4 separate regions of the Homo sapiens genome follow, and regions 1, 2 and 4 are each linked to region 3. Evidence: fine-mapped expression QTL. A gene starts in region 3. Each other region holds a variant in brackets. All regions are shown on one strand. Distances are from middle to middle. Region 1 overlaps THRA (thyroid hormone receptor alpha). Region 2 overlaps RAPGEFL1 (Rap guanine nucleotide exchange factor like 1). Region 3 holds the start of MSL1 (MSL complex subunit 1). Region 4 has its middle 6.4 kb from the start of KRTAP4-8.

What was found. PIP is the estimated chance that this variant, and not a neighbour inherited with it, causes the effect.
Region 1: its variant is the best candidate, but not a certain one, in a credible set for the expression of MSL1 in monocytes (TOPMed, PIP 0.57).
Region 2: its variant is the best candidate, but not a certain one, in a credible set for the expression of MSL1 in whole blood (INTERVAL, PIP 0.51).
Region 4: its variant is the best candidate, but not a certain one, in a credible set for the expression of MSL1 in neutrophils (BLUEPRINT, PIP 0.81).

Annotation. Positions count from the first base shown.
Region 1 is chr17:40,089,334-40,094,478 of GRCh38, forward strand. THRA (thyroid hormone receptor alpha) reads left to right here. Exons shown (of 9, transcript NM_199334.5): 9 at 1-3,669. The coding sequence ends at 123. It overlaps NR1D1 (nuclear receptor subfamily 1 group D member 1), which reads right to left. Exons shown (of 8, transcript NM_021724.5): 7 at 4,579-4,789; 8 at 3,460-3,949. The coding sequence ends at 3,750. Among named protein-coding and RNA genes, the nearest start is that of NR1D1, 8.7 kb to the right of the region's middle. RefSeq lists enhancers at 1,257-1,882, 1,883-2,509. The variant C/T (reference allele first, on the strand shown) is at 2,768.
Region 2 is chr17:40,194,078-40,199,222 of GRCh38, forward strand. RAPGEFL1 (Rap guanine nucleotide exchange factor like 1) reads left to right here. Exons shown (of 15, transcript NM_016339.6): 15 at 1-1,573. Among named protein-coding and RNA genes, the nearest start is that of MIR6867, 3.1 kb to the left of the region's middle. RefSeq lists enhancers at 366-866, 491-540. The variant A/ATT (reference allele first, on the strand shown) is at 2,414.
Region 3 is chr17:40,119,359-40,124,497 of GRCh38, forward strand. It overlaps MSL1 (MSL complex subunit 1), which reads left to right and starts at 2,613. Exons shown (of 9, transcript NM_001365919.1): 1 at 2,613-4,022. The coding sequence starts at 3,255. LOC124904001 (a long non-coding RNA gene) reads right to left here and starts at 2,482. Exons shown (of 2, transcript XR_007065752.1): 1 at 2,426-2,482; 2 at 1,171-2,055. RefSeq lists silencers at 2,064-2,223, 2,454-2,653, 2,694-2,903, 2,964-3,103, 3,204-3,253 and 1 more and an enhancer at 3,454-4,092.
Region 4 is chr17:41,089,177-41,094,321 of GRCh38, forward strand. No RefSeq gene overlaps it. Among named protein-coding and RNA genes, the nearest start is that of KRTAP4-8, 6.4 kb to the right of the region's middle. The variant C/T (reference allele first, on the strand shown) is at 3,031.

The DNA.
Region 1 (5,145 bases), 30 kb before region 3:
GTGACTGACCTCCGCATGATCGGGGCCTGCCACGCCAGCCGCTTCCTCCACATGAAAGTCGAGTGCCCCACCGAACTCTTCCCCCCACTCTTCCTCGAGGTCTTTGAGGATCAGGAAGTCTAAAGCCTCAGGCGGCCAGAGGGTGTGCGGAGCTGGTGGGGAGGAGCCTGGAGAGAAGGGGCAGAGCTGGGGGCTGAGGGAGACCCCCCCACACCCCTTCTCTCCTTCCTCTCGTCCTTGGATAGATTCAGCTCCCACACACACACCCGCACTGCCCAGGTCCCTCCTCAGACCTCCAGCCCTGGGACAGGGCAAACAACTGAACTTGCTATGGAAAGGACAGTGTGGGAGGCTGGGGGAGCTGTGTCCTGCAGTTCCCAGGACCCCATCCTCTCAGAAGGTAGGGGAAGGGCGGGAGGATTGAGAAGGGACAAGCCACCTTGACCGTAGGGGAAGGAGGAATGTGGGCTGGGGGAAGATGCCCTCAACTCACCCCCTACACACACATGAGAGAGAGCCCCCACCCAGTTCCTTGGCCTAGGTCTCCCCTCCAGGCTGAGGGCCTCTCTACTTCCCCAGATGCCTGGGTGCAAAGAACGGCTTGGCTTGGCTCCTCCTCTGGAGGTTAAAATTTATAGTCATTCTAACTGCACTTTGGAAACCAAGCAAGGGGAGAAGACAAATGAAGAAAAACTAGACAGAGAGAAAAATACAAAAAAGAGAGAGCGAGCGATAGAGAGAGATGATATTAAGTTATTAACTGAGGCTGACCAGAGGGGAGGACCCCCCCTTTACCACCCCATGCACTTTGCGAGCTGCCCCTTCTTCCCCCACATCAGAGAGAAATGCCCCCACACCAGAGCCCCAAGGGTAGGGCTGCCGATCAGAGCTGTGAGTTAACACAACAGGGTCCTGGCCACCCCCCTTGCCATACCCCGCCCTCTGTGCCCCTTTGGCACCCCCCAACCCTAGTATGTCCTCTGCTTTCTGCCACTCGTGCCCGCTGAGTTCCATCTACCTCTCATGCTGGATGCCAGCTGGCCCCTCACCAGCCTGCCCTGCTGCCCACACAGCTCCCCTTTAAGTGCCCAGCCCTAGGGGCCTCTCCCCATCCACCTCCTCCTTCCACACCTTGGCACCCACCCAGGAAAAAACTGTGGCTCCAACTCCTACCCTCCTTATATCCTGCAGTATTAGCTAGAAACCGGATGCTGCTGCATTGGTTGGGTCGGGGGTAGGAGGGCTGTGCGTGAGCGTCTCCCAGAACCCTCCACCCCTTTAGCACTCTGTTTCCCTGTTTCCCATCTGTCTTCTGGGCTCTCTCTAACCTCTGCCCTCCTCCCCAGCTCCTACTCACTGCACTAACTCTGGGCGGGCAGGTACCAGAATGGGGGTGTTTAGATAAGTGACACTTAGTTGGGGCCCCAGGGGAGGGGTGGTCGGTGCTCCTTTTTCTTTAAAGCTCTTTTGGCCAGCTGCCCCTCTGCCCCGGGACCCCTTCCCCTCTTCTTTTCTCTAATTCAGGGACTTTGGCTTGAGCCCCTCTCGCCCTCCTGGTGAGGGTGCTCTGTTGGTCTGCACTTGGGTGAGCTGTCCTCCTCCCCCTCCCTGTGGCTGCCGCCCACTCCTCAGGGGAGAGAGGGAGAGAGGAGGTGGTCCTCCCATGGGAGCAGGAGGTGGGGTGGGACAGAGCAGACCAGAGGGTGCTGGGCTCAGGGCTGCATGTCGGCAGGGATGGATGGGTGGACACAGATGCCCCCGGAAGCCATGGGGATTGGGGCAGGGGGTGGGGGGAGGGGTGCCAGGGCTTCCTGCGCTTTGCACTATTGGGGCAAAAATGTCTTAAGCAGTGGGGAACCTGCCACCCCACCCTGACCCTCAGCCTGCCACAGCCCCCTACACACACACACACACACACACACACACACACACACACACGGACATGCACACACGGACATGGGAAGGCAATGCTATGCTGCCCGTCAGGGCACTGTCCTTCCCCAATCGTTCAGGTGTTCCAACAGGGGTGGAGGGCCTGGAGGAGCACCCGCTGTCACCTGTGCATGTGCCTGTCCCACCCTGCTGGGGCCTCGGGCTGCCCGCGCTGTCTTTGTCTCTATCCTCTCTCTCTCTCCTGGAGTACTGAATCCTGTATTACTCCAGTCCCATGGGTAGGCCCTCTTGTACCTTCCTACCACGCCTGGGGGCCCAGTGGAATTCCTGACCTGTCTGCTGTCTTCCCCATCCCTCCATCCCCACCCCAACCCCTCCATCCCCATTCTCAGCCATGGACACGGCAGAGAAAAGGCCTTGAAGAGCCTTAGCCTCTTATAGGCACTTGGGACTCCCCCACCCTCCCCAATCATATGAGCTGTGATCCCATCCTCCCCGGACCCCTCCCTTCCCCCTCGGTGATGTGGGGTGTATGTGTGCGTTCCTCTGCGTGAATGTGTGAGTGAGTACACATGGTAGGGGAGGAGCCAGGGCGACTCAGGAGTGCCACGCACCTGCTCTAGAGCGGCAGCTGTCCCAGTCCCTGCTGTGGAAGTGGGGGACAGGGCCCTCTCCTGGGGGCCATTGGTGCTAATGAGGGGGATGGCCTTGATGTGGGTGCTCAGCATGCCTCCCCCAGTATTGGCCCGGGGCACTAGGGCAGGCAGGGTGGAGCAGCAGGTGCAGTATCGGTGGGAGGACGGGTTGCTGGGAATAGGACGAGGGGGCCAGGCCAGGACAAGGGGTTGCCAGAGCCATGACCACTACCCCGCCC[C/T]CACCACCCGCCTCTCCATCTCAGTATTGCCCCTCCCATCACTCATAACACACATACCTCATCCAGCCTCCTCCCTGCTCAGACTTGGGGAGGGTGGGGGAGGAGCCCCTACCCCTTCTCCTGGTGGCGGGTCTGCAGGGCTGGGAGAGGGCAGGGCGTTGTGAGAGAGAGACCGTCCATAAGGAGGACAGTAACTCCTGCCCTGGGAACTCCTGGGCGGGGGGGAGGGGGACACTGCCCAGAGGCGCTACTGAATGTATGAGAAGCTGGTGCTGGGCTGGGGGGAGGGGGGTTGTGGCCAGAAACAGGGAAGGAGGTAGGTCTCTTCCCCAGGGAGGGGTGGGACCGGCAGGGGTGACTTGAGGGGCTCCTACTCCTGCCCCACGTTGACAATCAGTATGTCTGTTATGTGCGATTTTTCACCCCGTTGTGTTTTGGGTCAGGATTTTAAAGAAAGATATTTTTATGGTAATTGTTGCTCGTCTATTTTACTATATATTTATGTAATAAATATATGATGAAAATAACCCCCTTGGGCACCCCCCTTAGACTTGTGTGCTGTTTCCCTATATCCTCCCATCTGCTGGCAGAGTACCCACCCCACAAACTGACCAGATGGAGAGGTGGCCCCCCCCAGCCTTGGCAGTATTTCCACCCCACCCCCCAAACGAGCACACACCACAGAAGCCAGCTCAGCTGTGAACTATTGGATTTGAGACAGGAACAGAACAAATCAGAGGGCCAGGGGAGGGTTGTGGGGGAGACAGAGTGGTTTAAATAGGGGAGGAGGGGAAGTTCGGTGATGGGGGAGGGAGGCAGGTATTTACAAGAAGGCTCAGGGGGCCAGAGGCTCATCTTGGAATATTTTATAACAATATAAATAAGATTCTGGTTTGCTTTTCCTTTTCGTCTCGTAAAGGAGAGAGAAGTGCAGAGTTCGATTCTGTACAAGGGGGCAGCGGCAGAAGGCCGGCCGGGCGGGTCACTGGGCGTCCACCCGGAAGGACAGCAGCTTCTCGGAATGCATGTTGTTCAGGGTCCGCAGGTCCGGCAGCTTGAGCAGCAGCTTGGTGAAGCGGGAAGTCTCCAAGGGCCGGTTCTTCAGCACCAGAGCCCGAAGAGCCCGCAGCAGCGTCTCCTGGAGCTGCTCCACCGAAGCGGAATTCTCCATGCCCGAGCGGTCTGTGGGGAAGACGACAGCAGTGAGGCGGACTCCCCGAGCTCCTCTGAGGAGGAACCGGAGGTCTGCGAGGACCTGGCAGGCAATGCAGCCTCTCCCTGAAGCCCCCCAGAAGGCCGATGGGGAAGGAGAAGGAGTGCCATACCTTCTCCCAGGCCTCTGCCCCAAGAGCAGGAGGTGCCTGAAAGCTGGGAGCGTGGGCTCAGCAGGGCTGGTCACCTCCCATCCCGTAAGACCACCTTCCCTTCCTCAGCAGGCCAAACATGGCCAGACTCCCTTGCTTTTTGCTGTGTAGTTCCCTCTGCCTGGGATGCCCTTCCCCCTTTCTCTGCCTGGCAACATCTTACTTGTCCTTTGAGGCCCCAACTCAAGTGTCACCTCCTTCCCCAGCTCCCCCAGGCAGAAATAGTTGTCTGTGCTTCCTTGGTTCATGCTTCTACTGTGACACTTATCTCACTGTTTTATAATTAGTCGGGCATGAGTCTGTTTCCCAAGCTAGACTGTGTCTGAATCATGTCTGTATCCCCAGTGCCCGGTGCAGGGCCTGGCATAGAGTAGGTACTCCATAAAAGGTGTGTTGAATTGAACTGCGTCTGCCTCCTCCCCCGGGTCAGGCGAGAGCCTGACCTACCTGCAGAGACAAGCACCACCGCGGTGAAGAGGCCCAGCTCCTCCTCGGTAAGCGCCAGGGAGTTGAGCTTCTCGCTGAAGTCGAACATGGCACTGAGCAGGTCTCCCATGCCCATGGCACCAAGCTCCTGCAGGCTGTAGGTGGTGCGGCTTAGGAACATCACTGTCTGGTCCTTCACGTTGAACAACGAAGCAAAGCGCACCATCAGCACCTAGGAGGGAAGGGGAACAGTCATCCTGGGTGTGGTGGGAGGAGCACTGACCAAATCGCCCCTGTAGTTTGCCAGAGGGTTTAGCGGTGCTGCCTTCGATTTCTCAGTAGAGTGGGGGTTGTTTCTGAATGGCCAATGAGGGAGCCCAGGTGGAAGGATGGCTTTGGGATCCAATAAGCCTGAATCTGAGTGTCAGCTTTGTCACTACCTGTGACCTTGGGCAAGGCATTCACCAAAGTTAATCTGCTCTTGTCTAGAATGGGGGCAGCAGTGCACCCAAGGCATTATTTCAGTGTAATGGGTTGTGATTAAATTCCAGCTGAGATGACAGAAGTCCCAGCCATCAAGAGGAAGCA
Region 2 (5,145 bases), 75 kb after region 3:
TGGAGCTTCCAACTTCCTCTTGCAGCAGGAAAGAATGCTGCTCACCCTTCTGTCTTGCAGAGTGGGATTGTGGGAGGGATTGGCAGCCTTCTTCTCCACCACCTGTCCAGCTTCTTCCTGGTCAGGGCTGGGACCCCCAGGAATATTATGTTGCCGTGTGTGTGTGTGTGTGTGTGTGTGTGTGTGTGTGTGTGTGTGTGTGTGTGTGTGTGTCTTCTTTTAGGGAGCAGGAGTGCATCTGGTAATTGAGGGTGGATGTTGTGTGTGCTGGGGAGGGGTCCTTCTGTTTGGTGCTACCCTTGTCTACTCTGCCCCTGGATGGTGCGGGGTGCTTTCTCCACCCCCACACTCCCTGCTCAGCTCCTCGTGCTGCCCTGCATGCCCAGGCTTGTGAGCCAAGCTGCTTTTTGGGGCAGGGAGTAGCAGCAGGTGGGAGGGGTTACCCATCAGCCCTTGCAAGTCCCCCACTCAGGCCTCTGGAAGGTCCAGGGATGGGCTCTGATGAGAGGGTAAAAGATGCTCAGGGAAACACAGGCCTCAGCTGCCTAGAGGACCCTCCCCCTGCCTTGCAGTGGGCTCGGGTAGAGCAGTATCAGGAGCTAGGGTTGTCTGCTGCCCACACTCCTGCTTTTTGGGATATCTAACTGCTAAGGAGGGAGTTGACATCCCCCTTCTGGCTCATGTGTCTGACACCAACAACATGGTCTCTGTCCCTCTCTCTTTGACTCTCCCTTTGTCCTCCCCATAGAGCTGGGGTGGGGTGGATCCCTATACCTGGGGCAGGCAGCCCCAAAGTGGGGGAGGGGGATGGCAGAGACTGTAAAGGCGCCACTGGACTCTGGCAAGGCCTTTATTACCTTTACTCCCCTCCCTCTCCCATCACCAGCCTCAAGGCCTGAGGGGTGCAGGGGCTCCTGGCAGCTACTGGGTGAGGTTTCCTGGCACAGACTCACCCTTCTTTCTGGCACCACCTCTTTCCCTTTTGAAGAGACAGCAACAGCCGTAGCAAAAGCAGCTGCTGCTCCTGCTATGAGGGTGTATATATTTTTTACCCAAAGCTCTGGAATTGTACATTTATTTTTTAAAACTCAAAGAGGGAAAGAGCCTTGTATCATATGTGAACATTGTATCATAGGTAATGTTGTACAGACCCTTTTATACAGTGATCTGTCTTGTTCCTGCAGCAAAAATCCTCTATGGACATAGGAGGTGCTGTGTCCCATGCCCTCTTGCCCTGACAGTGTCCCATGGGCCCCCTTCTGCTCCCTGCCCCCTCCCTGCTACTGCTGATGCACTCTCCTCTCCCTGCAGCCCCTGGCTTCCCAGCCTTCCTCCTGACCCCTTCCAACAGCCTTGGAACTCCAGCTGCCACCACCCTCTGGGTCGGACACTGGGACCCACTGGCCCAGTCTTGGCTGCTGCTTACCCCTAGCCTTGATGCCTGCCCAGGGACCCCCAGCCCCCTCCCGTTGCCCTGCAGCTTTAACAGAGTGAACCATGTGTATTGTACAGGCGCGGTTGTCATTGCAGAAACCGCTGGGTGGAGAAGAAGCCGATAAAGTCTATGAATCAACCTGCCTGTTGTTCTCCATTCTGTTTTCTTTGAGGCTGTGGAAGTGCTGAGGGAGGGGAGAGGGGATGGCCGCCCAGTGCTGTCAGGAGCAGGGCTGTTCTGGAGTGACTTTGAAAATGTGGGTGGCGGGGTACAGTGGCTCATGCTTGTAATCCCAGCACTTTGGGAGGCCGAGGCGGGCAGATCACCTGAGGGCGGGAGTTCGAGACCAGCCTGGCCAACATGGTGAAACCCTGTCTCTACTAAAAATACAAAAATTAGCCAGGTGTGGTGGTGCATGCCTGTAATCCCAGCTACTTGGGAGGCTGAGTCAGGAGAGTAGCTTGAACTCAGGAGGCGGAGGTTGCAAGGCGCAGTGGCTCTCCAGCCTGGGCAACAGAGCAAGACTCTGCCAAAAAAGAAAATGTGGATGAGAGGAAAAGATGCCAACCTCACAAGACATGTCACATAATGCCTGGAACTCAGAAGAGGGGATGGGATGTTTTCGTTCATACATGTTCCAGGTGGCATAAATATGAGATCACATTTAATTCTAATGCTAAGGTAGAAGATTGAGGCACAGCAGTCCCAGAATAATTACTAGTGAGGGCACTGGTCCCCTAACCCAGGTCTGTCCCCTGAAGACAGCATGTACTGTTCACACAACCAATATTTACCAGTTCTACTAAGTTTTGTTTTGTTTTGTTTTTTTTGAGACGGAGTCTTGCTCTGTTGCCCAGGCTGGAGTGCAGTGGCGTGATGTCTGCTCACTGCAAGCTCTGCCTCCCAGGTTCATGCCATTCTCCTGCCTCAGCCTCCCAAGTAGCTGGGACTACAGGTGCCCACCACCATGCCGGGCTA[A/ATT]TTTTTTTTTTAATATTTTTAGTAGAGATGAGGTTTCACTGTGTTAGCCAGGATGGTCTGGATCTCCTGACCTCGTGATCTGCCCACCTCGGCCTCCCAAAGTGCTGGGATTACAGGCTTGAGCCACTGCGCCTGGCCCAATCCTACTAAGATTATAGGGTGCAGAGAGCCTAGCGTTAGGCTTAAATGATAGCCTGAGTTCCAGGAGACATCATACACTCAAATAGCTATACCTGGGCCCTTGATAATCCCCATTCACATCTGTTTCTGCCTCAGTCTTCTGCATCTCAGAAAAATGATCCTCTCATCCACCCAGGTTTTCTCTCTCTGTTGCCCAAGCTGGAGTGCAGTGGCGTAATCTTGGCTCACTGCAACCTCTGCCTCCCAGGTTCAAGTGATCCTCCTGCCTCAGCCTCCTGAGTAGCTGGGATTATAGGCAGAGGCCACCACACCCGGCTAATTTTTGTATTTTTAGTAGAGATGGGGTTTCACCATGTTGGTCAGGTTGGTCTCAAACTCCTGACCTCAAGTGATCCACCCACCTCAGTCTTCCAAAGTGCTGGGATTACAGCTGTGAGCCACTGCCCAGCCACCTACCCAAGTTTTCAAGGCAAAAATACAGGACTCACCATTGGTGCCTCTTTCTCCCACCCTTCATTCATCTCAGCCAGTCCCATCGGCTACAATTCCAGAGCATTTTCTGAGTGATCCACTTCTGTATGACTCCCCTATGACCATACTAGTCCAAACCACCTTCATAGCTTCCCTGCATGACTACTGCAGCCTCCTACCTGGTCTGTCAGCTTCCTCTCTTTGATCCACCCCTACCTGCCACCAGTTTGATTTCCACATGGCAGCCAGGGTGTTCTTTCAGAAACACCAATCACGCTGGGCATGGTGGCTCAAGCCCATAATCCTAGCACTTCGGGAGGCTGAGGCAGGAGGATCGCTTGAGCCCAGGAGTTCAAGACCAGCTTGGGCAACATAGTGAGACCCTGTCTCTACAAAAAATAAAAAATTAACGAGGCTGCAGTGAGCTGCGATAGCACCACTGTACTATAGCCTGAGCAACAGAGTGAGACCCTGTTTAAAAAAAAAAAAAAAAAGAAAGGAGAGCAAGGGAAGGAGGGAGGGAGGGACAGAGGGAGGGAGAGAGGGAGGGAGGAAGGAAAGAAGGAAGGAAGGAAGGAAGGAAAAAAACCCAGTGTCTTTCAACACATGAATGGACAAATGCATTGGGGCATATTCTTATGGTGGAATACTATATAGCAAGAAAAAAGAACAAATTATTAATACCCACGTGAATGAATCTCACAGACTTAATGTTGAATAAAGGAAGCCAGACACAGGCTGGGTATGTTGGCTCACACCTCTAATCCCAGCACTTTGGGGGCCTGAAGTAGGAGTGAGAGGTGAAGCTGGCTGGGCTTCTGGGTCAGGTGGGGACTTGGAGAAGTTTTCTGTCTAGCTAAAGGATTGTAAATGCACCAATCAGTGCTCTGTGTCTAGCTAATCAGGTAGGGGACTTGGAGAACTTTTCTGTCTAGCTAAAGGATTGTAAAAGCACCAATCAGCGCTGTGTGTCTAGCTAAAGGTTTGTAAATGCACCAATCAGTGCTCTGTGTCTAGCTAAAGGTTTGTAAATGCAGCAATCAGTGCTCTGTGTCTAGCTAAAGGTTTGTAAATGCACCAATCAGCACTCTGTAAAAACGAACCAATCAGCACTCTGTAAAACGGACTAATCAGCATTCTGTAAAATGGACCAATCAGCGCTCTGTAAAATGGACCAATCAGCAGGATGTGGGTGGGGCCAGGCCACCCGAGCCAGTAGCGGCAACCCACTGGGGTCCCCTTCCACGCTGTGGGAGCTTTGTTCTTTTGCTCTTTGCAATAAATCTTGCTGCTGCTCACTCTTTTGGTCCGCACTATATGAGCTGTAGCACTTACCACAAAGGTCTGCAGCTTCACTCTTGAAGCCAGCGAGACTACGAACCCACTGGGAGGAACAAACAACTCCAGAAGCGCCACCTTTAAGAGCTGTAACACTCACTGCTGAAGGTCTGTGGCTTCATTCCTGAAGTCAGGGAGAGGACGAACCCACCAGAAGGAAGAAACTGGACACATCTGAACACCTGAAGGAACAAACTCCGGACACACCATCTTTAAGAGCTAACACTCACCGTGAGGGTCTGTGGCATCATTCTTGAAGCTTCATTCTTGAAGTCAGCAAGACTAAGAACCCACTGGAAGGAACCAGTTCTGGACACAGGAGGATCTCTTAAGCCCAGGAGTTCAAGACCAGCCTGGCCAACATAGTGAGACCCCTATCTCTACAAAAAATAAAAAATGTAGCTGGGCATGGTGTGTCGCGCCTGTAATCCCAGCACTTTGGGAGGTTGAGGCAGGAGAATCCCTTGAGTCCAGGAGTTTGAGACCAGCTCAGGCAACATAGGGAGACCTTGTCTCTACAAAAAAATAAAAAAATAGGCCAGGTGCGGTGGCTCATGCCTGTAATCCCAGCATTTGGGAGGCCGAGGTGGGTGGATCACCTGAGGTCGGAAGTTTGAGACCAGCTGACCAGCATGGAGAAACTGTCTCCACTAAAAATACAAAATTAGCTGGGCGTGGTGGCACATGCCTGTAATCCCAGCTACTCGGGAGGCTGAGGCAGGAGAATCGCTTGAACCTGGGAGGCAGAGGTTGTGGTGAGCTGAGAGCGTGCCATTGCACTC
Region 3 (5,139 bases):
TGACCAACATGGTGAAACCCCGTCTCTACTAAAAATACAAAAATTAGCTGGGCATGGTGGTGCATGCCTGTAATCCCAGCTACTCTGGAGGCTGAGGCAGGAGAATCGCTTGAACCCGGGAGGTGGAGAGGTTGCAGTGGGCTGAGATTGTGCCACTGCACTCCAGCCTGGGCAACAGAGCAAGACTCCGTCTCAAAAAAAAAAAAAAAAAAGAGTAAGACTGTAGAAGTGGTATTTGGGTGTTTGGGTGGGAGGAATTCGGGAGCTTGATTTTTAGATGTAAGTTTGAAATACCTAGGCCGGGCGCGGTGGTTCACACCTGTAATCCCAGCACTCTGGGAGGCCGAGGCGGGCAGATCACGAGGTCAGGAGATGAGACCATCCTGACTAACACAGTGAAACCACGTCTCTACTAAAAAATACAAAAAATTAGCCAGGCGTAGTGGCAGGCGCCTGTAGTCCCAGCTACTGGGGAGGCTGAGGCAGAATGGCGTGAACCCGGGAGGAGCTCGCAGTGAGCCGAGATCGTGCCACTGCACTCCAGCACTCCAGCCTGGGCAACAGAGCAAGACTCCACCTCAAAAAAAAGAAATACCTATTAGACATCCAACTGGGTATGTATACTAGACAGTTGGATATATGATTCTGGAGTTAGGGGATGAGTCCAGAAAGAAATATAAATTACGGAGCTGTCAGCGTAGAGATGGTGCAGAAAGTCTTGACGCTGAAGGCTGGGCACAGTGGCTCACTCCTATAATCCCAGCACTTTGGGACGCCCAGGTGGGAGGATCGCTTGAGCGAGTTCAATACCAGCCTGGGCAACAAAGGCTGGTATTACAAAGGCCCGTCTCTACAAAAAAATAAAAAGTTAGCCAGGTGTGGCAGCCCAAGCCTGTTGTCCCAGCTACTTAGGAGACTGAGGTGGGAGGATCACTTGAGCCCTGGAGGTTGAGGCTGCAGTGAACCATAATTGTGCCACTGTACTCTAGCCTTGGGGACACAGCAAGACCCCAGTGCCACAAACACACAAGCCTTGACATGGAAAGAGATCACCACATTCTATGTGCCCTCTCATCCCTGCTCACTCCATTACTTGGTGTCCCTAAGCTCAATACTTCCCTTGCTGATCTGAGGCCATACAGTCTGGTGAAAGAGGGCCGGACTCTTGGCTTCTTAACACATTCACATACGTTTGTTTAAAATTTCCAGTGTTTCATGCTTTCAGCCCACAAAGCACAGACACAGTTTTAATGAGAGGTTTTCACATCAGGCCAGAGAATGTCAGTCTTCTCCATCTCCATAGAGATTTTAAAAAGCACACCTCAGACAAAAAAGAAAAACAAGCAATTAAGACTATTTCAGGGCTGGGCACGGTGGCTCACACCTGTAATCCCACCACTTTGGGAGGCCGAGGCGGGCGGATCACCTGAAGTCGGGAGTTCCAGACCAGCCTGACCAAGGAGAAATCCTGTCTCTACTAAAAATACAAAATTAGCTGGGCGTGGTGGCGCGTGACTGTAATCCCAGCTACTCGGGAGGCTGAGGCAGGAGAATCGCTTGAACCCCGGAGGCGGAGGTTGCAGTGAGCTGAATTTCACCATTGCACTCCAGCCTGGGCGACAGAGTGAGAATCCGTCTCAAAAAAAAAAAACGTTTTTTTCACAAGGAATTCTGAGGACTTGTTGGCTCAATTGCTTGGACATAAAGACACACATACATGAAGCTGGAGAGATAGGAAGAAGCGCTCAACACAGAACACCCTAAGTATCCCTACTCCCTTTCAAGGACTAAATCCCTTCAGAGATTTCCTTTGCTTCAGTCCTTCAGGAGCCTCCCGAAGATGCTAGGAGTCGTTTAAGAAGGCTGGAAGATGGCCGTTGGGAAGGAACTGTTGGTAGCTGGCAATACTTCATCCCAAGGAGGCGGTGGCAATAGCTCCCTGGGCAGCAGACATCATGGATTTTCCTCCCTCTGGGAACCAGAGGTCCCTCCGTTTCTGGTTTGAATCCCTTAGAGACAAAGAACTTCATTCTCTCCCATACCCGCGTGGGACTGCTGGGGAGGAGAGGGGGTGGAGGGGTTAGACTTCTACCCCCATGAAACACCCGCGGGCTCAAAGAGGAGCCTGGATCCTGACTGGTCCAGGAGGCGTGCGGGGCCGCGGGGCCCCTCCGGCTTGGGCCAGGCGCGTTGCCAAGATGCCCGGGGAAGGGGCCGCCCGGCGCAGGCCGGGGACGTGGAGCGCTCGGGGCGCTCCCACGTAGGCCACACATTGGCCGCCTGTATCCTCCTTCTTTCCTCTCAACTCCATTCTCTCGCGCTTTTTTCCCGGGGAGCCTCCGCTTTCCCCTTCTTCCCGCGGCCGCCCTCGCCCTTCTTCCCCCTCCAGACCCTCCCCCGGCTCGCCCCTCCCTCGGCAGCCCACCTTCACCCCGCTCCTCCGCGCGCTCCTCGGTCCTCGCCCCTCAGCCCCGGCCTCCCCTCGCCGGCCCCCGGCCCCCGCGGTCCCCTCCCTGCCCCCCTCGAGGCGGCGGCGGCCCCTTTCACAATAGCGCGGCCCGCCTCCCTCCTCTCGGCTCCCGGTGCACTCCCGCCCGCTCCCCTCCCCGCGCATGCGTCCTCCGGTTGGCGGCGGCTGCGGCGGTGGCGGCTACGAGCGGCTCCGTTTTTTTAAAGGGAAACGCTGAGGCGCCGGGGGTGACTGTGGGGGAGGGGGACCCCGAGCCGCGGAGACCCCCGGGAGAGGCGACAGACCCCCTCTCCCGGAGTAGGAGGGCTTTGGGCGGACCCAGCCCTCCACCCCCTCCTGAGGAGGAGGGGGGGGAAATGGAGGCTCGGGGCGGTTGAGGCGAGCTCCGGGGCGGGGGGCCGGGGCGGGGAAGGGGGGGTGCGGGGTGGGGAGACGAGGCGGGCCCGGCCGGGCCAGGGGGGGCCGAAGCGAGCTCCGGGGATGAGCTCGGGGGCGGCTGGGTGCGAGCTCCTGCCTCTGAGGCGAAGGCGGCGGCGGCGGCAGCAGAGGCGGCGGCGAGGCCCCCATGGGCCGGCGGCGGGCCTCAGCCGCGGCCTCCACGTCTCCGCACGCCGGCGGGATGGCGCCCGGGCCCCGGAGGAGCCGCGCTAGCGGAGGCCTGCTGCCGCGCTGCTGAGGCGAGCCCGCCAAACTCCCCTCCCCCCCCTCAGTCCTCGACCCCCCGCACCTCGCCCCTTCCCCACCCCCTCCTCCGCCTCGGTGCCCGGCGCTGCTCCGGACCACTATGACCATGAGATCCGCGGTGTTCAAGGCGGCCGCGGCCCCTGCCGGCGGCAATCCTGAGCAGCGACTGGACTACGAGCGGGCTGCGGCGCTGGGCGGGCCCGAGGACGAGCCTGGGGCGGCCGAAGCCCACTTCCTCCCCCGGCACCGTAAGCTCAAGGAGCCGGGGCCCCCGCTGGCCTCCTCCCAGGGCGGGAGCCCCGCGCCTTCCCCGGCCGGCTGCGGCGGCAAGGGCCGGGGCTTGTTACTCCCGGCCGGGGCGGCCCCCGGGCAGCAGGAAGAGAGCTGGGGCGGTTCGGTGCCCTTGCCCTGTCCGCCCCCGGCCACCAAGCAAGCCGGCATTGGGGGGGAGCCTGCCGCAGCCGGAGCCGGCTGCAGCCCCCGGCCCAAGTATCAGGCGGTGCTGCCCATTCAGACGGGCTCTCTCGTGGCGGCGGCCAAAGAGCCTACGCCCTGGGCTGGGGACAAGGGTGGGGCGGCCTCCCCCGCTGCCACCGCCTCGGACCCGGCGGGACCCCCACCACTACCTCTGCCCGGGCCGCCACCCCTCGCGCCCACCGCCACCGCCGGGACCCTGGCGGCCAGCGAGGGCAGATGGAAGAGTATGAGGAAGAGCCCTCTCGGGGGTGGTGGCGGCTCGGGAGCCTCCAGTCAGGCCGCCTGCCTCAAACAGATCCTTCTGCTGCAATTGGACCTCATCGAACAGCAGCAGCAGCAGCTGCAGGCCAAGGAAAAGGAGATCGAGGAGCTGAAGTCAGAGAGAGACACGGTACGGGAGGGGTTAATCTGCATTCGGGCCGAGGAGCGAGTTGTGCGCATGCTCGGGGGAAGGGGGCTGTAGGAGGTTAAGGCACCCCCGGGTTAGGGGTAAAGGAGGTTGGCCACCGGCAAAGGAGTATCTTAGGCGCTGGGTCTCTGGGAGCCAGGCTCACAGACACGTTGGGTTGGAGGGAAGGGTTAAAGGGCAACCTCTCAGGGGGAGGGGGAGGGGTTTCAGGTGCCAAAGGGTTAATTTAAAATGACAGCCCCAGACGTGTGGGAAAGACGTTTAGTGGAAAAAGACGTGATCTGTGAGGGGTTAAAAATGAAAGGGTGGGGTGTAGGTGTTGTGTCCTTATGGAAGGGTTAAATTAAAGAGCTATTGCGTTAGAAATGCACGGTGGAGGAGAGGGCTGTAGCAAGCAGCTGTTGCTTTCACCACTGCTGCAGCATCTTTAGATAGGAGGGCAGTAGGCCTTTTAGTGGGCACAGGGGTAGAGGTGATTTACGTGGAATCCTATTTTAGTTTTCTTAAATGATATTAAGAGAATCACTGCCTTTGATTTCAGACAGCTTTTAATAGGAACCTGAGTTCTAATACATGACCCACTGACCAGGTCCCTTTTATAAGCATGGTGTTTGAAACTGGAAGATTTTAGGGCATCAGGGGAAAGTAAGCTTATTAAATGTATTAAATAGACCTCCCCATCCTTATTTTAGAATCTTAGGGAGTAGGAAAGTCGTTTATTATTTCTTTACTTCTGAGGAGCTTGGACGACACAGGCTTGTTTTTACTGCAGCAGTAGTTAAGGGCATCTCTGCGTTAAAACATATTCCTTCAGATATGAGGGAAGCTGGGGTGGGGGGTATTACTGTGCTAGCATACCTTACAGCTGCCTAAAAATAAACATGGTTTCTACAATTGTTGTGTTCAGGCTGCAGCAGTCTCTCTCTCCCTCTCTCCCTCCCTCTTCCTCCCTCCCTGTCTCTTTCCCTTTCTCTCTCTCTCTCTCTCCCTCCCTCCCCGCCGTCCTCATCTCTCCCTCTCTCCTCTTTCTCTCTGGCGTCGTGTGCGCTAAGAGCTGAGCAAGGGAGCAAGCGGCTATTCATTTTGTTTGCTTTCCAAA
Region 4 (5,145 bases), 970 kb after region 3:
TGACCCACTGTGGAGTCCTGCCCACAAATGGCACATATTGATCCACCACAGAAAACCTCTAGGCCTCAGCTCAGTTCCTCTTTTTAAGAAGAAAACTGGGAAACAAATAATCTAAGAATGAGGAGAAAGCAAAGAGAATGATTCCCTTTCAAGCACTCCATAGGTTTTATGGCACCTGTACTTGCCAGAGTTTAAGTAAAATGGAAGTAATATGGTCTTTGTGCATATTTACATTAAGAAAGAAAGGGCCCATGTAAATTAGTTCAACCATTGTGGAAGACAGTATGGTGATTCCTCAAGGATCTAAAATCAGAAATACCATTTGATCCAGCAATCCCATTACTTGTTATATACCCAAAGGAATACAAATCATTCTACTGTAAAGACACAGGCACATGTATGTTTATTGCAGCACTATTTACAAGAGCAAAGACATGGAACTAACCCAAACGCCCATCAATTATAGACTTGATAAAGAAAATGTGGTACATATACACCATGGAATACGATGCAGCCATAAAACGGAGTGAGTTCATGTCCTTTGTAGGGACATGGATGAAGCTGGAAACCATCATCCTCAGCAAACTAACACAGAAACAGAATACCAAATACAACATGTTCTCACTCACATATGGGAGTTGAACTTTGAGAACACATGGACACAGAGAGGAGAGCAACACATATCAGGGGCTGTTGGGGGGTGGGGAATGAGAGGAGGGAACTTAGAGGATGGGTCAATAGGTGCAGCAAACCACCAAGGCACACATATACCTATGTAACAAACCTGCACGTTCTCCTGCATGTATATTTCATTTTTTTTTAGAAGAGAAAGAAAAGAAGGAAAGAAAGCAAGAAAGCAAGAAAGAGAAAGAAAGAAAGCAAGCAAGCAAGAAAGAAAGAAAGAAAGAAAGAAAGAAAGAAAGAAAGAAAGAAAGAAAGAAAGAAAAGAAGAGCCTTAAGGTGGACCTACAAACTACAGAGTTCCTAAGTTCTCTTTTTTCTCTATTTTCTTTTCTGCCTGCTTTAAATCTGCTGTTATTTTTCTATTAAGATCAAAACCACTGTTTGGATACAACAGTTTTTTTGCTTGCAAGCTGGTGAATTTGTATTTGTCTCATGGCTAAAGTTCTGAAGTAAAAGCTATAGGATGTGTGTGTGTGTGTGTGTGTGTGTGTGTGTGTGTGTGTATTTAAAAGGCCTTTATAATTTTTATAATTTTATGTTTATTTGGCAATGAAGTCCATTTTAATTTCCCTCTAGCACCACCAGACTTTTTCTCTCTGTACCTTAAGACATAAATTTTGCTCTTTGATTTTTGCCTGAGTTGTTTCCTTTAATATGCAAACTTAAAGCCATTTAGCTGACAACTTCCTAGGGGATTAAAACAGGTTATTGAGAATTTGAAAGTCTAAGATAGTGGAAAAATCTTCTTATGAATCTATAAGATGTACTTCTATCAACATGCCTACTAGGTCTATGTATTTATGTGTTGTGTACACAATGTCTCACTACTGAAAATATATAAAAGGGCTCTAATTAATTGGCTTAAGAAAAAAAGCACTTAAATCAAATACTTATTAGGAAAAAAGAAAAGACTAGTTGAATGCTTTCTCAAGTTTATGTAACTTAAGTAAAATCTTTAATAAATAAGCTACTTTTAAAATGATTGGTAAAGTAATATTAGACATGTCTTAAGAATTGCCAGCATGCATTTTGTTTGCATTTATTAATCAAGCAATTTCATGTTTATCCCTGTCAAATACTATAAGGTGTCAAAATTTGGCATGGGGTTACAAAACTGTGATAGAATGATCTTTGCTTGTGTAATCTTTAATAAATAAGACATTGATACTGGTTTAATAAAAATAGCCACATCTTGAATTTAGTCAGATTACCATAACTTCTAATCTTGTGGCTTTTAGTGGTCTAGTCCACAGGCAGTAATATTTACTTTGGGAATGAAATATTATAATCTTTGTTTCAAAGGTAAACTATAAACTATTTTCCTCTCAAAGTCTGTTCAGCCTGTGCTGGTAAGAAAGCTTAAAGAGAAATAATTTCATATGAGAAAGAATCTTGTATGGTAAATTTAGACCTAAAATAAAATGACTGATTGTTTAAGAAAGATGGATGTTCAAAACAAACTAGATAGTCCAAGCATATCATGAACAGTCTCTATAAGTCATAAGAGGATTTATTTTAAAAAAATACCAAAAAACTTTTATATGATTGAGTTGTCTATAATTAAAGGGAAATTATAATGGTCTTCCTGAAGATTGGGCTTCATGCTAAAAAAAACACTTATAGACTAAATAATTAGTTACAGCGATGAAATTTTCTTAAGGGATTGATTTACTCTTAATAAATTATAAGAGATTTTAATTTTTTAACCCAAAGTTCAACTATTTACTTGCTGTTTTCTCTCCCCTTCAACTTGTTTTCAGCTCATATAAGTTATTTTCCTTAAGTTCTGTTTGTTGTGGCCTGATGCTAACAATGTTTTCTAAAAGTCTAAAGGAAATGTTTTCTTCCAAAGTAATACTCTGTGCAGTGTAGAAGGTCTTTTCTTTTGCCTTTTGGTAATTGACCTAACAGATTTTATGGCTTATTGAAACAATTCCTATGCCATTATTATTAATTTTTGGTTTGCTTAGGAAAAAGAAACTGAGACAATTTTTTTAAAAAATTAACGTTATTACATCCATGTATATTTCTGTGTGCACTTTGAAAGTACCTGTGACATTGAGTTACCGGCCTTTAACTCCTGGATCTAAAAAGGAGACCAAGATCTGCTAAATCTTAAACACTGACAGCAATTAAAACCTCATCTTCAGGCCTGGTAGAAGATGCCTATCAAAATAAGCTGCATTTCTGAGACATAAGGCCATAAATCAAAGCTATTCAACTCTTCAAGACTCAGGAACAATCACAGAAGAGGTAGGCATGTGAGATTATAAGGGCTGATTTTGAGAGATAAAATAAGTTCAGTCTCTATACAAGTTAATAATTGATGTCAAAGGCACACTGATG[C/T]AATACCAGCATATGGGCCCCTGTGTCAGATTAACAAGGTTTTCTTGAAGTGTTAACTGACCCCTTAATAAAGGTTATAAAGGTTATAAAAGGCTTATGAAAGTTGTATCTTATGGTCAAGATTAAAATGTTATAGATTGTTTAAAAAATTTTGAAAAACAAATTTAATTGGCTTTATGCTGTTTTATTTGGGCTTATTGTTTGAAAAATTGACTTATTTTATGATGACCTGTCATATCAAGTGTTTTAAACCTTTGATATTTGACAAACTTTCCAAAATCAAATTACAAGTTGTGTATTTTTCTGACCTAATTAATCCTTTAAGATATTAGTTTCCCTCAAGTCCAAAAATGAAATAATTTGACTTATTTGGTATAAAAATTATACAGGAAGCATTGTCAAATATAAAATGGTGTTTGGTTTTATTTGGGCTGTATTTGTATAAAATTGTTATTGGTATGTGCACCAAAATTATGGGAAACTCCTATAATTCTGATATGACCTGGTGTACATTATCAGTAATAATTATGATTGTTATATTAAATTATTGTGTGCCATGGTGGTAACAAATTTTCTTGTCAATTGTATCTTCGCCTATGGCTGACCTAAAACTTTTTGTCACCCATGGACAATTTTTGTCTTGTTTTAGTCCTCTTTAGAAGATGGTTTTATAATCAGCTATAAAACTCTAACAGGTATTCTTGAATGCAGGTTTCTAATAACTCTGGAGATTGTGACATCACAATGAAGGAAAAGCTTTCAGGACTCATGGAGACCTGAAATGTTCATGAATAGCAAGCAGAACAGGAATTAACTGCATGAACTGAACTAACAGAAGACTGAAGTAATCTTTTTGACTTTTTGCTTAAAACATTGCTGACCCTTTATTTTGTTTTTTTCAGTCAAGGAAACTTTTCTTTTGAGCTGTTGTCAGCTTTTAACAAGTTAGTATACTCCTGTGAAAAATATTTGGAGCATATTTGTTTCTCTCTACCTGATTTTCCCTAGAATTGGAAACTATCTGTGAGTATTCTTAACTTATGGCAATACAGTTATTTGCGTAAGTGCAATAAGAATCTGTTTTCATTTGTAACAGGACACGATAAATTGGTCATTTTACCAAGGCTTTTACTTGAATGGTGTGCTCTTCTTTGAGGAATCAAACTTGACTTATGGAGCCAATAAAAGCCCCTTGGGAGAACTGGCCTCATACCTTATCTACACAGTCCCTGTACAGGGTTCCTGACCTGTGGTAAGTAAAGCATGTCACTTTCTAACAGTTCCAGGAGCCCCAAGTTTATCTTGGAACCTCAAGAGGAGAGGAATTCACCCAACTCATAGGTATTTGATGGTACAAATCCATGGCTAGGCTAAGCTTTCCAAAAGTCTTATCCGAAATTCCTTCTATGGAACAAAGTTCTGATAGGGCCAGGGGACAGAGAAATTCTAGGCAGAAAAGGATAGGTCTCTGACAAAACCCCACCTTCAAGCTGAAAAGCCTTAAACCATGGCCCAAAGTGACAACTTATATCCCTGTTTTCCTGCTTGAAAGTTGCCTTTTTCTAAACCACTCATGGCCCCATCCTGTCCCATCCTGTGCCTGTGAAGATCTCAGACTGAGCTGGCAGAGGCAAGAAGCAGCTGGATGTTGGGGACTACAGCCGGACATCAGAGAGAAGCAGCTTGACTGCAGAGGGACAGCTTGATGGTGTAACCTTGGAGAAGAATCCGGCTGGATACAGCCTAACTTTGAGGAAGATTACCTACCCACCCCATCCTTTTTCAGCTCCCTTCCTGCTAAGAGCCACTTTCATCAGCAACAAAATCCCCCACATTTACCATCCTTTGATTGGTTCATGTGACCTCACCTTTCCTGGACACCCGACAAGAGCTTGGGAGCCAGGAGAGCAGATACAAAAGGCTGTCACACTGGCCTTCTGCTCTTGCTGTTGGAGGGCAGCTGCCTCATGCAAAAAGGCAGAGGGCTCACTGAGCTGTTGACACTTAAGCCATCCATGGAAGGCAGAGTTAAAAGAGCACTGTAACATGACTTCTGGGGCTATGGGAGTTGCAGGCACCTCCACCTAGATGCTGCTGTGGGGCCCGCACAGAGTT